Linked DNA regions of Homo sapiens: region 2 is linked to region 1. The links come from fine-mapping of genetic effects on gene expression. A gene starts in region 1. The other region holds a variant in brackets. All regions are shown on one strand. Distances are from middle to middle.

Evidence for each region. PIP is the estimated chance that this variant, and not a neighbour inherited with it, causes the effect.
Region 2: its variant is fine-mapped to the expression of CARINH in blood mononuclear cells (TOPMed, PIP above 0.99).

The regions. Positions count from the first base shown.
Region 1 is chr5:132,407,814-132,416,149 of GRCh38, forward strand. CARINH (colitis associated IRF1 antisense regulator of intestinal homeostasis) reads left to right here and starts at 3,116. Exons shown (of 4, transcript NR_161242.1): 1 at 3,116-3,228. RefSeq lists an enhancer at 2,465-2,514 and silencers at 2,755-3,054, 3,125-3,414, 7,817-8,005.
Region 2 is chr5:132,457,537-132,465,872 of GRCh38, forward strand. All of the region lies in intron 3 of CARINH (colitis associated IRF1 antisense regulator of intestinal homeostasis), which reads left to right. Among named protein-coding and RNA genes, the nearest start is that of IRF1, 29 kb to the right of the region's middle. RefSeq lists enhancers at 1-217, 145-374, 6,440-7,404, 7,294-7,363, 7,405-8,336. The variant T/C (reference allele first, on the strand shown) is at 4,350.

The DNA.
Region 1 (8,336 bases):
ATTATTTGATTGCTTTATTACCTCACTCAAGTGTGTTTCCCGAGGGCAGAGACCACATTTATTTTTGCTCATCACTGAATCCCCAGCATTAGCAGGGTGGCTGCATTTTGTAGTTGCCACAGAATATTTGTTGAATGAAATATCTAAAAGGGTTATTTTTTTCATTTTTATCTGAATCACACATCAGGTATTTTTTTTTCCTAACCAGTGACTCCTAAGTTAGATGCTGCTTGCACCATGCTTTCATTCCATTTATATCATTCTTCAGCTGGGTTGCGTGATCATCAGCTGTGCCCCGCCCCCCAACCCTCCATTGCCCGATTCTGTAGTAAAGTCTTTTGGGACTGGCCTTGGACTTGGACTTTTGCTTCTTTTGTGTCTTTACTGACTATCAGTGCAGGCCTGGATAAAGTTCTTGTTGCAGAACTTGCTACTGCACAAACTTTTGTTCCAGGGTTAGATCAGGAAGGATAGTAAGGAAAACAGAGCTGTCTCCAAAAGGTGGGATAGAAAGCTGTCCTTTAGAAGTTAAATTATAAATCAAGCCAATCAGAGCAAAGATACAAAATGTCTCCATAAAGAAAAATAAGGGCTGAGAGACCTTACTGAGTAATGTTACTCAGTAACGCCTTGCTCTATCTAAAAATGTCCATCTGAGGAGAGGCGGCCTGGGTACCATAATACAGAGAGCCTCATCGACACAAACAGATGGTGTCCACCAGGCCCCATCTAGGGAGAAGGGCTGGCCAGGCCAGCAGGGATGAGTGAACAGTACTTCCTATAGGTTTTGACCTGTGTTGTGGAAAGAGACATCCCACATTGCCCGAGCCTGATATCATCAAACATTTAAGTCAGACAATTCACTCTTCCGATTCTGATTTTAGGCTCACTAAGCCACCTTCTGACTATGGGGCTCCAAACTGCATGGCTACAAGAAGAGAATGTGTTCATCAGGTGGCCTCGAGTCCAGTGTTCCCGACAGTCTTGCTTCTAACAGGAATGGATAAGCTTCAGGTTTTGGGGTCAGATGGCCTTGATTCAAACCCTGCCACTAACATACATAGTAACTATGTGACCTTGGGATTTCCTTCATCTTTTTTTCTCCCAAATGAAAAATAAATAGATTATAATATACCACATGATAGTAGGGAGAAATAATGAGGTAATAATGCATGTAATGCATTTAGCATAGCACTTCTCTAGCAAATAGTGAATGAAATCAGTCAGTTGTCATTCTGACTTTATGCAACAGTGCTAATCGACTCTGGTACACTGGAAGTCAGATGAGATTTTTGGCCCCACAAAGTCAAGGACCAAACCTGGACCTTGGGAAGTTGCCAAGATGAAAAACATCAGGCCGGCCTTGACCTCCTGATGCTCTCTGTTCACATGTGTGATGTCTATAAAAGGTAACCAGGATTTGGCTTATCTGCTTACATCTCTTCCTGTCTTTTCCTGATCTTCATCTTCCCAAACATAGTTTTTATGCAGAAGCAGATTTAACTCTACTTTGCTATCTTGGAGTCAAGAATTGTCCTATAAGGAGGAAGAGGCTCCAAGGCTTGCCTTTTTTGTTTTTTCTTTTTCCTTCATACTACAGACTAAAAGTAGCATCTTCTGGACAGAGAAACAGGCTGTTGTTTTTCTAAGGTCATCATTTGGCCTGCCCCACTTTCCCACCTGCTCTTGAGGGAACTATTGCAAGGACACATACAAGCCCCTACATCAGTCACAGACCAGGGCCTCCATCTTGCAGGGAATGTGCCCAAATTACAAACAGGTAAACCAAAGTGACTCTGGGCAGATTTAATAGCTCATTTTGGTTTCTTGTTCCAGTTATAACAGACTGCTCTGTGTTTGCTCTATGGCAAAAACTTTTATGTTTGCTTTGCAACAAACGTACAGACAGGGCAAACTGTGTTTGGAGTATGGTGTCTTACCAATGTTTTCTAAAAGCAAGTGAATAGAAATGCTTGCAAAAGTATTTTCAGACCTCAGTGGCCAGCGCTGAACACCGCTGTAGGAATGTCCATCAAACGTTGTGGCCATGCTCCACTCTAACAAAAACCTGGTTCCGTGGCATAATTGTGGGGGCTAATTGTCAGGCTAAGTTTCAGACACCTTCCAAAAAAAATTGCAGGGCTTCCTCAGTCTTTAAACTCCAGATAATATTGTCCAAACTTTGACAACTAACCTGTTATCATGGAGATAGCTCCAAGTTGATGGACTGGCCATTAGAGAATGTCTATCAAGCATCCAGGTAAATGACTTGGTTGCTGCCCTCAAGGAACCCACTTAGAGGCTGTCAGAAAATTTTAAGTATTTTCTTCCTTCTATTGTTCATTCCTAAAATTCTGGCAGTAGGTATGATTATTATTATTCCCATCCCACAGGGGAAGTAATTAAGTCTAACTACTTGAATATTTTGCCCCAAATCACTGACAGTAAGAGACGGCCAGACACTGAAACCTGGAATCTCTAAATGTTTAGATATTGATGGGCACCGCTTAGACCAGGGAGTCCAAACCATAGGCTTGCTGTTCCAGTTTCTCTTATCGGATGAAGGGACCCCCATTTCACCGACGTCATTGACTTTTGGGTTCTCCGCTGACCCCAGATGAGATGCCTGGTACCTCATGGTCAAGTCCCCTCCAACGGGGACTCCTCAGAGGCTTGGTCCCAGTTGCTCAGGCTGCCATCTGCCTCCTCAGGCCAGAGCCCGAGGCGCCGCCAGCGGTCAGGTCCCGGGCCGGCTGCCAGCCACAGGCCCAAGTAAACGCTGAATGAAGGGCAGATGGAGGAACCTGTCCCGGTCGGCCGAAGCGCCGCGGGCGCCTTTCCACTTACGGCGGGCCTGCCCAGCCTCCCGCCCAGCCCGGGCCCGGGTCCCGCCGAGGCAGGTGTGCGTGGCGGACTAGCTCTCGGGCACTCGGCTGGCCCAGCTCCACCCCGAACGCCACCGGGCCAGGCCACGCGCAGACCCGAGCCCGGGGCCCCCGCCTCTGGCTGCCGGCCCGCGCCCGCCGCGCGCCCCGCGTTCACTGCGCGCTCGGCCCCGGTCCCGCCTCCCGGAGGGTTTCGCTTTCGCTTTCCTGCCGATGTCGTTGAGGAAAATGAAAGCGGTCGTGGCCAGGACTGGCGCAGCTGCCGTTTCAGGCGAGGGGCGCAGAATGCAGCGGCCGCCAGCCTGGAGCGCGGGCCCTGGGGCCGCAACCCGCGCCGGGCGAGGTAAGCACAGCCCCTTCGCGGCCGCCTCGCGGGCTCCTCCTTGCGGACCCGGCGGGCCCGACGCCAGGCGTTTGACCCGGGCAGGGTCAGGGGTTCTGCCGTGGGGGCGGGGAGGGCCTGAGAAGCGGCACCCTTGGGTTTCGTGGCTTTGAGCCTCCAGGCCAGGCTGGAAGACCTGGGAGGCCTCAGACAAGCGTGCCAAGGGGCTAGCAGCCCGGGGTCGAGCTGGAACCGTGGCAAGTCGGGCCACCTGAGCACGCCTTTCCCTTTTGTAGAGCACCGACCTCCCTGGGTGTTGGTAAAAATCAAAAGTGGGAGGGTGTACGTAAAATGCTGAACAGAATGCCTAACCTGAGCTCATAATCTACTCCCTCTGACCTGTCAGACTCATTTTTCCCACTGGGCCCCACCCCATACCTCATGTAGTTTGCTTAAGTTTCCTAGATCTGGTGCACCTGGGGGCACTTGGAGTGCCTTCCAAGTGTTCCTTGACCGAGCAAGCTGGCAGCTCATCTCCCTTGATCACGGGCATGGAGAGCAACTAGGCCAGGATGTGGCCCCCTTGCCCTGGCCCTGTCCATGTGAAGTCAGGGCCTTACTCTGCTGGGGCCCCCATCCCGGGGCTAGCATAGATGTCAGGGATAGGTGCACTCACAGACCGAGTCCTTCCCAGACCAGGAAATTTCCAGTCCACTGCATCTGCCAGCAGAAGCATGAAAGATGCGTGCCACCTTGTCTTTGCCCTTCGTCAAGTATAGCCAACTCATTCTTGGTATGCAGGAAGGGGGTTCCACCCCAGGGCTGTGGAAACAGCCCCTGCCCTTAGGGCGTTCCCATCCCCTGAAGAGAGAAAATATGTATTCAAGTTACCCATCAGGCAGGTTGTGTAGAACAAGGACAGGTGAGTGAAAGAGCTAAGAGCTGAGAGTAAAGTGACTAAATCATCAGAAACTTTACATTTAAGTTATGACAGGTTTTGCAGGCCAATACCAAGAATCCCCTTTAACTCAATTTTTGTCTCAATAATAATGAATTCAGCCTAATCACACAGATCTGATCATACGGCCCATTACTGAAACAAAACTTGAATGATCTTTACTTTGAGAAAACCATCTGAATTTGACAAAAGATGGTCTAAGTTCCTAAGTTTCAAAACATGGAGTCCGCCGCTGCCCTACCTCAGCAGGATGGTGTTGAGTACTGATTGCTTTTAGAAAATGCTGCTCTTGCCGGGCACGGTGGCTCACGCCTGTAATCCCAGCACTTCAGGAGGCCGAGGCGGGCTGATTACCTGAGGTCGGGAGTTTGAGACCAGCCTGACAAACATGGAGAAACCCCGTCTCTACTAAAAATACAAAATTAGCCAGGCATTGTGGCACATGCCTGTAATCCCAGCTACTTGGGAGGCTGAGGTAGGAGAATTGCTTGAACCCGGGAGGCGGAGGTTGCAGTGAGCCAAGATCGCGCCACTGCACTCCAGCCTCGGCAACAAGAGCTAAACTCCGTCTAAAAAAAACAAAGAAAGAAAAAAAGAAAATAGAGAAAATGCTGCTGTTTTCATGAGCCAGAAAATTAGATGCACTTCCATTCACATTCCATTGGCATGGACTAGTCTCATGGGTCTCACCTAATTGTAAGGTGGCTGGGAAATGTAGCCTGGTGGTGTTCCCAGGAGGAAAAGAACGAGAGACTGGTGAGCACTAGTAACCTCTTCCACAATCGACTAATGTGGTGAATTACTTTATCATGATGTATTTGTAATACACTTTCGTATTTGATTAGATAATATTTTATTTAGGAGTTTAACATCTATGTTTATAAGTGAAACTATCCTGTATTTTTCTTTATTTGTACAGTCCATATTTAACATTTCAAAATCAAGTAACAAATTGGGCAATGTTTTCTCTTTTTTTCTATTTTCTAAAGCAACTCCATTAAGATAGAGATTTTCTGCTCCTTGGAAGTTAGTAGGAGGCACTTGTAAAATCTTCTGGGTCTGAAACTCTATGGGGAAGAGGTTTCAAAATTATTTGAGTCTCTTAAGTGGTTATTCACATTTTTGTGCCAAATTTGGCAATTTTTATTGTCTAGAAATTATTCATTTCATCTGTATTTTCAAATGTATTATCATGTGTTTATATTATTCCTTTATAAGTTTTAAAATGTCTGTTTTATTTGTCATTTCTTCCTTTTTCTGTAATCTCATTTTTAAAAAATCTTCTGTCAGTTATTCTTGATCAGTCTCACTAGAGGTTTGTCTACTTTCAAATAAATACTTCAAGTTTTGTTAACCACCTTTTTTTTGGTCCTCTATGTCCTCTATTTTGCTGATTCTGCCCTTATGTTTATTATTCCATTTTTTCATGTTTCTTTAGTCATATGCTTTTGTAATAAATTCAAACAGTATAGACATTTGTAAAGTGAGACAGGAAAGTCCACTTCAGCCTCCATAGGCAACCACAGATATCATATTGGTGTGTTTTTCTGGACCCTTTCCTATGCTTATACAAATATTTTTCTACAACTTTCTAAACTGAAACTCATAGGTAAACTGCTCTTTATAGGCAACCACAGATATCATATTGGTGTGTTTTTCTGGACCCTTTCCTATGCTTATACAAATATATTTCTACATCTTTCTAAACTGAAACTCATGGGCCTCTTTCTGTGGTGTATACACACACATACACATACATACACACACATACACATCCATTAAAATGGAATACATACCATAATTTATCCATTTTCCATTTATGGGCATTTAGGGTGAAAGTCTTGGTCTTTTAACAATGGAATTTAATTCATTCATATTTATTTTGATCACTGATAAATGTGGTCTTATTTTTGCCATCTTGTTTTGCCATGTATTTATCATGTGTGTTTTTTTTTTCCTTGTGACTCTATGGATTCATCAAAGTGTATTTGTCCCCTGTTTCTTCTTTCCTTCTTTTTATTCAGTGAGTTGGAAGTTCTATATCTTACAATAGGCCATCATTTAGTTCTTAAGCTTAGATAAACTTGTATTTTTGTCTCTGGCAAAAATTAATCAGAACCTATAACCTCCTTCCAAACATAATAAATCTTTTTTTTTATTTTTTGTTTTTGTTTTTGTTTTTGAGATGGAGTCTCGCTCTGTCACCCAGGCTGGAGTGCAGTGGTACAATCTCAGCTCTCTGCAACCTCCACCTCCCGGGCTCAAGCACTTCACCTGTCTCAGCCTCCCGAGTAGCTGGGACTACAGGTCCCACCATGCCCAGCTAATTTTTGTATTTTTAGCAGAGACGGGGTTTCACCATGTTGGCCAGGATGGTCTCAATCTCTTGACCTAGTGATCCACCCGCCTCAGCCTCCCAAAGTGCTGGAATTACATAAGTATGTTTTCTCACGTCTCTTTTTCCTTACCTTTTCCCCACAGGCACATATACACATAGGTATCTGCCTGGGAATTATTAAAATAACCTGAACAATTCCAATTGTTATTAATTCTTCTTGCTTCAAAATACAATTTCCTTTTTCTATGTTAGAAATATTAACAATTGCATTAATCTACAATCTAACCTATTTGTGCAATTGCATATTATACCAGGATAGGAAAGTTTAAACATGTATTTCTTTTAGACTTTTCATTGAATTGCTGAAAATTCATAGTGAATTGTATCTTGAGTAATGCTTCTCTGAGTCTCTTATTTCCCAAAAGTATACTTTGGAATCCATGCAATTCTGATCGTTGTTTGACCTTTGCTGGCACAAAGGCATTCTGAAATATTTGCAAATGCTAAAGTCACTTCCTCATCTTTTACAGAGTTTACTTCAGCTTGGTGAAACCAAGTGCAGTATCAGTTTGTTGTAAGCTTACCACTAATTAAAGGTTCATAAAATAGCCCTGCCCTAGGGTCAGGGACTAGCTAGAAGAGCATGAAAATAGCCTTTGAAGATTCAGCTGCTGGATATTTTACATCAAAAAGCTGAAACGTTTTAACTATTTTAATATTTTGTTTATAGTACTTAATATTTGTGAACGTGAAGTAAAATGGACACAGTCATAGTAAAACTGTGGTAAAACTAACTTGGATGGTGTTTGGGCTGTGGTTATCAGAAGCTGCTTAAAGTGTCCATGCCTTTTATCCCAGTTCTACTTCCAGGAATATGTCCTAAGGCATGTTTTCATATGAGGTTATTTCAGGTGGCGCAGGGTAATTCTAGTTGGGACACATTTGCCACATTGTCTAACACTGACTCACAGTGAGAAAGTTATTCCCATGCTCAATTCCTTTTCAGTCTTCTGATCAACGGAAGGTGAAAAACTTTAGCTTGGTGCTAGCATACCTTTAACACCTCTCTAAGCCTCTCTAATCTCCCATTTTATATAAAAGAATGGGCAAAGGGGTAGCAGTATTTTGACTATATTTTAACCACAGTGTTTTTTTATTCCAATAAAACCTATTATGATTGCCTTCATTTATGGCATATGATGTTGGTTTTCCACTTAAATAAGGTTTGTTTGTTTGTTTGTTTGTTTTTTGAGACAGAGTCTTGTCCTGTTGTCCAGGCTAGAGTGCAGTGGCATGATCTTGGCTCACTGCAACTTCTGCTTCATAGGTTCAAGCGATTCTTGTGCCTCAGCCTCTTGAGTAGCTGGGACTACAGGCACGCACCACCACACCCGGCTGATTTTTTGTATTTTTAGTACAGACGGGGTTTCGCCATGTTGCCCAGGCTGGTCTTGAACTCTTGAGCTCAGGCAATCCGCCTGCCTTGTTTTCCCAAAGTGCTAGGATTACAGGTGTGAGCCACTACACCGAGTCAGGTTTGCTTTTAAAATACATTTGTTTAAGGACAGAAATGAGTTGATGTAAAGAGAAATGTTAAGTACATTACAGATGGTAATTAATTATAGCAAAATAGTAATGGCAATGCATGGATGTAGGAAATAGGACCCTAAGGAAATAATCAGAGCTATAGACATAGATTTATATCTAGGGATATTCCCGTAGATGAGGAGGTTCCTCCCAATGACTTATGTTACCATAAAGTTAGAAACTACTCAGTTGTTCAGCAATTAGGGATTGGTTAAGTGATTTTCCTACTTTCATATGATGGAATAC
Region 2 (8,336 bases), 50 kb after region 1:
ATCTGGAGCCCAGAGCTGACTGTCATTACCCACAAACATAAACACCCTGAGTCTGGCCTTCTCCCCACCCTGCCGAGGTTGTCAGAGCCTCAGCACTGGCTCTGCCCTGGGTGGCAGCCCCTGGGAAGCCCAGCTGCCACCTCTCTACAAATGGCCCTGTAGAAGCTGTGCTCAGTGATCCACTTCCTGGGGGGGGCTGGGCCCACCTTGTTGCCATTACACCCCATTACAAACTGATGCAACCAGCTTTCAACAGACACTGCCAAGGAAGATACACATTACAACAGCATGCTGCAATACCTCTGCCTGTGCAAGAGACTGACCCACATCCAAAAAATGGACATCTTCCCACCCCAGTGTCTCACTCCACTGAGCTGGAAGTGGCCTTTGTCAGGACCCTGTGAGGTCTTGAGTGGATCTGCTTTTCCCAAGATATTAAACCAGTGACTTTAAATCCTGGCTGCATATTACCATCATCTGGGATATTAAAAAATACTGATGCCTGGATCTTGCTCCCACCCAAAGAGTCTGACTGAATTGATGGGGTTTTCAAACATTTTTTAAGTGTTTGTTGAAGGATGACATACATGCAAAAAAAAAAAAAAAAGCACAAACCATAAGTGTAAAGCTCAGTGAATTTTCACAAAATGAATTTACCCCGAGTAACCAGCATCCAAATCATGAAACAGAACATCACCAGCAACCCCTGGTACCCCTTCCACTTACTACCTGGCTCCAAAGGCTAATGTCCATTCTGGCTTCTAATGGTGTACAGTCATTTCTCCTGTTTTCAAACTTTATATGATGTAAATGGAATCAGGCAGTATATATCCTCTTGTTGTGTTTGTGAGATGATTCATCCAAGTTGTTACTTAGAGCTGCAGTTTATTCACTCTTCTTGCTATAGAGTATTCCACTCTATGGATATTCCTCGATTTATCCATTCTACTGTGATGCATTTTTGGATATTCGAGTTGTTATTTATAATTCGGAACTATTCTGACTATTGCAATGACATGCTAGTGTGTATTTTTGGAGTACATGTATATCCATTGCTGGGGAAGCATGGGTATGAGTATGTTCAGCTTTAGTACCTTATGCCAAATAATGTTCCCAGGTGGCTGTACCCATTTACACTCCCTCCAGCAATGTATGAGAGTTCTGGTTGCTTCACATTTTTGCCAACCATAGATATTTTCTATCTTTTTCATGTTAGCCATTCTGGCAGGTATGTAGTGGTATCACAGTGTGGTTTGAATTTGCATTTCCCTGATGACTAATACAGCTGAGCAACCTTTCATATGTTTGTTAGCCATTTAGATCTTCTCTTTGCAAAGTGCCTGTTGGAATATTTGGACATGAGTATTTTTAAAAAGCTCCTTAGGTAACTCTACTGTGTAGCCAAGGTGGAAAACCACTGAACTAAAACCACAAATTAGTATCTGCGTCTCCCTTTCTTCATGATTTGCCTTTGAACTTAGAGCATTTTGGATCTGAGAGGACCTCGTGGAACTGGGAAAAGATTATATTCACTCCCTACTAAGATGAGCCTGTCAGGAAGAAGCAATTGGAGCTGGCAGTTAAGAATCTTTAGGAATGTGACCTCTACTTCAGAAGGGTCCAGGGAGGGCCTGTGGTGTCCACAGCTGCCACAGACATTTCCTAACCACAAAAATGGCCCCTTGGTGGTCTCCCCAGAGCTCCAGGCAGTCATGGGGAGGAAGCGGAGGGCCCCATGCCAGGTACTTCCCAGTTTCTAGGCCAACATGAATGGGACACAGCTCATATGGGGTTGTGGTTAGACTGGGGACAGTGGAGCATATGTTCTGGGGACCTGGGTGTGGCCAAGGGAGGCCTCCTGTCTGTGGCCTTTGTCCCAGATTGGAAATCAGCCAGTGGGGCTCTCCTACATGGGTCCAGGCCTGGCTAGCTCTTGAATTCTGTGCGTTTGCATGTGGGTCCTTATGCATGCGTCCTAGAGCAGGGTCCCAGGGGGCCACTCCCCCCCCCGACCCCTTACTCCTCTAAGCTGGGAAACACGTGGCATGAGAGAACACACTGTGGCTTCTAATGACATCGTGTCTTGATTGCATCCCCATTGCATCATCTGGGCTCATCTCATCCCCACCTCTGGACTGTAACATCATCCCAGGGACTGCCGGACACTCATCTGTGCTCCCCCACAGAGAGTATAATGCCATTTGGTAATTCAGTACAGCCTCTTCCAACTTGAGAAAGAAGATGCATTTCCTTCCCTCAGTCTTGAGCTGTGCAGGTGTCACGCTGAGCTGCCCTGTGTGGGCTCCATGTTGGCACACATCGGTTGCAAGGGGCTCTGTGTAGTGAGTCTGGAGTTGGACCACTGGCCAGGCGCTGGGATGCTAGTGCCTGGACTGAGTGTGCACAGAGGCCCCTCAGGCAGAGCCACAGTGGGCGCTGAACCTCCTGGTGAAGTTCACCGCAGTAACTAGAGCTCAGTGGGAGGGGCTGGCCTATCAGCACCTGTCCTGTGTGCTTTTTGAAAAGAGCAGGGTCTACCTTCTGTCAACTGAAGTCCTGCCAGCTGCATGGCATGAGATGAGGGACAAAGTGGCACGTGAACAAAGTTGACATTTTGGAGGCTGTTAGGCTCAGAGCCAACCCTGGGCTCCATGTAGTGCCATGACTCATGGATTCAGGCCCATCTTGGAAATTGCTCTGGGCGTAGAGCTCTCATTTCTGATAGTCCAAGTGCAGATATTGGGGTTCCTCTAATTGGCCCAAATGGTGGCCTGCACCAACCAGCGACCAGAGTGCTGTCTGAATCTAGAATAACAGGAAGAACACGCCTCCAGCAGTGTAGGAGAGTTCCCCATGCAGTGTGCTTCCCATTCTTACCAGCAGTTGGTATCTTCTGTCTTTTTCACACTGGCCATCTGAGTCTCATAAGGAGACTCCTCTCCTTCCACTGAGCCTGCATCCCAGCCTCTCCCCTTTCTTCAGGGACCTCTCCCCAGCAATTACGCCCTTCCATTCTCTCAACCAGGGAATCTTCAAACTCTTCTTCTCCACTGGCTCCTGCTGTGCTCCTGTCTCCATCACCTGTATAATGCTTCCTGCCATCCTGCCTTCCCCGTGGAGTACAGCCATGCTGTCTGCTGCTTACAGCCAAGATTCTGGAAAGAAATGTCTCCTTTTTCCTCGTCATCAACCACTCATTTATTCAGCAAGTGTTTCTTTTACACTTGCCTGTGCTGGGCATGGCAGCAATGCAGCAGTGAACAAAACCATCAGCCCTGCTCTCATGCAGCTTATAATCAAGTAGAGAGACAGACATAAATGATTAATAGATGCTCCTGTAATGGTGGTTGTGAGGTGTGCTGCCACAGCCCAGCCACACACGCCAGTTCCCTTCTCTGCACATGTACATGTCTGCTCATCCTTCCCACCTGAACTCATGTGCCACCTCACTTATGCCCCTTCCCAATGCCGCACCCACACAACAGGGTGTCCCTCTGTGCCCACAGCAGCCCTTGGGTATAACTGTTCCCCACAGAGGCTGAACCCCAAGGGCAGAGTCCAGGCCACACTCACCACGGAGACCCCTGCCTGGCACAGAGCCCAGCCCAGCAGAGATGCTCAGAAGATGAATGAAAGTCCCTGCTGAGATTGATCCAATCTGTTTGTGAACATCTCTGGGGTCCAAGAATTCACGGCTTTCTTTTTCTTTAGAGAGCCTTTTGTTTCTTTTTGCCATTATATACTATATTTGGGTTAGGGCACAACAATGTGAATATACTTAATACTGAACTCTACACTTGAAAATGGTTAAGATGGTAAAGTTTTAAGTTATATGTATTTTGCCACAATTTTTTAAAATGCAGAGCATAGGTACAAAGAAGGAAAAAAAGGGGGCAAGGTCCATTTTATTGAGAAATAAAGAACAAAGGGTTCAATTCAGAGAGGATTGGATTTTAAAACGTAATTTAGATTAGGGAAATGCAAATGAAAACCATAATAAGTAAGATACCACTTCACATCTGTTAGGATGGCTATTTTAAAACAACAAAAACAACCTGAAAATAAGTGTTGGCAAGGATGTGAAGAAATAGATACCCTTGTGCATTGCTATTGGGAACGTAAAATCATGCAGCCTTTGTTGAAAACAATGTGGTGGTTCCTCAAAAACTTAGTTATCATATGATCCCGCAGTTCCACTTCTAGGAATATACCCAAAAGAATTGAAAGCAGGGACTCAAAGTGATATTTGTACACCAGTGTTTGTAGCAGTATTATTCACAATAGCCAAAAGGTGGAAACAACCCAGATGTCCATGACAAGAGGAGTGGATAAACAAAATATGGTGAATA[T/C]GTACAATGGAACATAATTCAGCTTTAAAAAGGAATGAAATTCTGGTACATGTTATAACATAGATGAACCTTAAAAACATTATGCTAAGTGAAATAAGCCAGACACAGAAGGAAAAATACCAGATGATCCCACTTATATGAGGTACCTAGAATAGTGAAATTCATAGAGACAGAAAGTAGAAGGATGGTTGCCAGGGGCTGGAAGGAGGAAGAACAGGGAGATACTGCTTAGTGGATGCAGAGTTTATGTTGAGGGTGATGAAAAAGTTCTGGAGATGGATGGTGGTGATGGCTGCACAACAGTGAGAATGTACTTCATACTATGGAACTCTGCACTTAAAAATGGTTAAAATGGATGTAGACATTTTATGTCTATTTTGCCATAACAAGAAAGTAATTTGGGTGTATTTTAGAGATTTTAGAAAATACTGTAAGCACAAGAGGAAAAAAATTAAAATCATTCGCAATCACCAGGTAGAGACAACGACTGTTGAAAGATCAGTGTGTATCTTTTCATTCTCGTTCTCTCTCTCAAAAAAGTGTGTGTGTGTGTGTGTGTGTGTCTTCAGATGTCACACTGGACTTTCAGGAAAGGTTCCCCTCTCTGCTGCTTCCCTGCTGGAGCCATGGAGAGCAAGTCTATCCCTGTTCCATAGGTCAATCCTTTGAATGATTTCTCATGGCTGAGTTCACTCCCCTGCACCTCCAGGGTTGCACTTCTCTGAAAATACTCATTTATTTTATGTGTCTACTAAAAACATGGCACCCACGACCCAATAATATGTTGGAAGGGGTTGGAGAGAGAAACGCGAGTACCTCTCACACCTTCTCACACACTACACATCTTAGCGATGGCCGAGTGAGCATGTTGGCTCTCTGGACTCCTCAGTCTGTTGGTCTGGGCTGCGCCAGGCTCAGGCTCCCTGCCTCCCCCCCAACCTTGATCCCCTTGCTTCTTGAACCTGATGCTGGGCCTCACATTCTCCGTTGATTCTAGCTCTTAAATCCTGCTTCTCCAGCTTGTCAGGAGGCTGTGCCCTCACACCCCAAAGAGCAGATCTGCCCTCTCCACTGAGAGGGAAGGAGTGAAGGTCCCACAGCCTCTGACCCCTGCTGGGCCCAAGAGAGGAACAGCTGCTTGCTTTATTTCTCGTGGGAGAAGTGTGTCTCCTCTTTGTCTCAGGCACCCCTCTGCCCTGTACAGCAGCAAGTCAGCAGGAATGAGCTGAGCCGCCCAAGTAGTGGCTCCCTCCACTATGGGGGCTCTGTGGTCCTGGGGGCTGTCCTGCCTCCACTGCCATAGGCCTGGCCCCAGAGCATGCTGCAGTGGTCACAACCTGTGGAGGTGCCCCCAGACCCCCATATTTGGGCCCAACTACAGCCTCCTTCCCCAGCTTTGCCACCTGGCTTGGGAGCCAGGGCACCACCAGCTTCACTGGCAGGGAGAGATGAAGAAAGAGGCCATAGCCACGCAAGTGACTGAAGTTCATGTTCGTGCACACCAATTAGAGAGGGACAGCACGTTCATTTACCTCCAAATCCAGCCACAGACACATCGCCCTTTTCTCTTGGCTCTGAGGCCTCCACAGAAGGGTTTTTTAAGGTTGCAGCCAGGACCTTTATAGCCTAGTCCTGAGAAGATTATCTTTTTATTGCAACTTTGATTAATGATTGATCAAAAACTGATACTAGAAACACTGAAGAACAAATTTGCTGTAGACATTAGGAAAGGTCTACATCTGGCAGGCCTGGAGACCTGCCCACCCTCTCCCCCCACGGTCAAACCAGGGCAAAGGTACATTGGAAGACCCAACCCCTACACACTCTTACACGTGCACTCGCACACACACACTGAGGGGAAAGAAATATTTAATTGTCCTTAAATCCTCTTGGATTAGGCTATAAATTGCAAATAAATGGAGCAACAGACAGAGCAAAAGCACATAAGGTCCTTTAATAGAATTTCTCTATCTTATTCTGTTTCTATGAATGCCTGTTACAAATTAGCAGCTTAAAGGGAAACCTGGAGTGTGGGAAAGAGCGACCCTTGTGTGAAGTCCACAGCCGGGGTTTCCTACAGACCTCAGGTCCCAGAGAACATCTAAGATGCCTCCAACACCAGATGGAGGAGGGCAGGAGATGCTGCACAGAGAAGCAGCACTTCCCGAGCATCTGTGGCAGGAAGTGACTTGGAGAGGATGAGGCCGTGCCTCAGGTGTGCTCTAGCTGTTCTGATGGTCTCTGAGGCCACGACTGCCATGGTGAGGTCCACAGCCTGCATCAGAATCACCAAAGGGCCCAAACGTACGGCCTCAGAGCCTGGAGAGCCAGGAATCGGCATTGCAACAACTCCCTGCTCAGTGGGTTCTACCAGTCCAGTACCTGCCCTCTGAGGGTGCCCAGGGAGCAGGGTGCTTGCTGGCTGGAACACTTTTTCCTGCCCCTCAGCTCCTCTGTGATGCCCTGAGGCACGGGCACTGGAAAGCTGGCAGAGCTGCTTCTAAATTGAAACTGGAAAATGAAACTGGAAATCACAGTTTCATTTTCCAGTTTCACTCGCTCCCCCTACTGTTGGGGTTTCTTTTCCACAAGGAGAGTCCCCCAGGGAGAAAGAAGCAGGAGTGGGAGTGGGGGAGCATGTTGGGGGAAGGCAGTGAGGGTGTCCTGTCTGCAGCAGGGCATGGAGGGGCCCCAGCGCTGCACTTGCTTCCTTTAAGCCTGGCCTGCTTGCTGTCAGCCCCGGGGGTGGTTTCCTCTCTAGGAAAAGCTAATGTCATGCTTATGCTGAAAAACTCTTTTCAGAGGTACTTTAGGAGGGGCCTGGCTCTCGATTAATCTGGGCCATTTCATACCGGCTGTGCTCACCCAGGCACAAACACTGAAAGCAACAGCTGGCAAAGCCATCGCTTGGTAGCAGCTTGGAAGACACCACCAAAGAAGCTCTCATGGAAGCGGCAGATTTCCTGAAGCGACTGGAATGCGGGGAAGGAGGGCAGTCGGGGAGAGCCGAGAACCAGCCCCCCTGCCAACTCCACCCCATTCCTCTCCTCACCTGAAATGTCTCATCCTTAGAACAGCTGCCCTAACCCCCTAATCCCACACACTCCTTTGTAGGTTAAGACCCCTGAAGTTGCACCCTCTCGTAGGAGCTATGTTTTTCAGAGATCCATGTGATTATTTGCCTAATGTCTGCCTCCCTCAGGGAAGTAAAGTCTGTGACGCGTGGACCTGGTCTGTGTTGTTCACTGTGCATCCACAGTGCCTGGGTAGTGCCTGGCATGCAGGAAGTACACACAAAAAATATGTGTTCATGAGTGAGGGCAGGCTTGAAGAGCCCAAGAGAAGGACAGTGCTCCAGGGAGGCGTCTGCATCAGGCTCCCCAGTGTCTGGACTGCATCCCAGCCCCTCCGAGCAACTTCAGGGGAGGATTCTGTGAACAGATGCCCCAGCTCTTCCGCCCACAGCTCCTACCCCCAGCCTGAGGAATGCTTTGACTGTCCCCAGTGTGTGCAGGCAGTGGGGAGGTGATAGGGGGAGGTGTCCCACATGGCACACTCTCCCTAGCCCTTGCTTTGCCTCCGTTACCTACATAGATGGGCTTCACAGCCTCTTCCAGATAGGCAGGGCACTGAGCTCTGTGGGCCACACCTAAAAAGAAAGGGAGACAAGCTGGCGGTGGGGGCATGACAGTGTTTTTGTTTGTTTGTTTGTTTTTTGAGATGGAGTTTCACTCTTGTTGCCCAGGCTGGAGTGCAATGGCGTGATCTCGGCTCATCGCAACCTCTGCCTCCTGGGTTCAAGTAATTCTCCTGCCTCAGCCTCCCGAGTAGCTGGGATTGCAGGCATGCACCATCACACCCAGCCAATTTTTGTGTTTTTAGTAGAGACGGGGTTTCTCCATGTTGCTCAGGCTAGTCTCGAACTCCCAACCTCAGGTGATCCACCCACCTCAGCCTCCCAAAGTGCTGGGATTACAGGCATGAGCC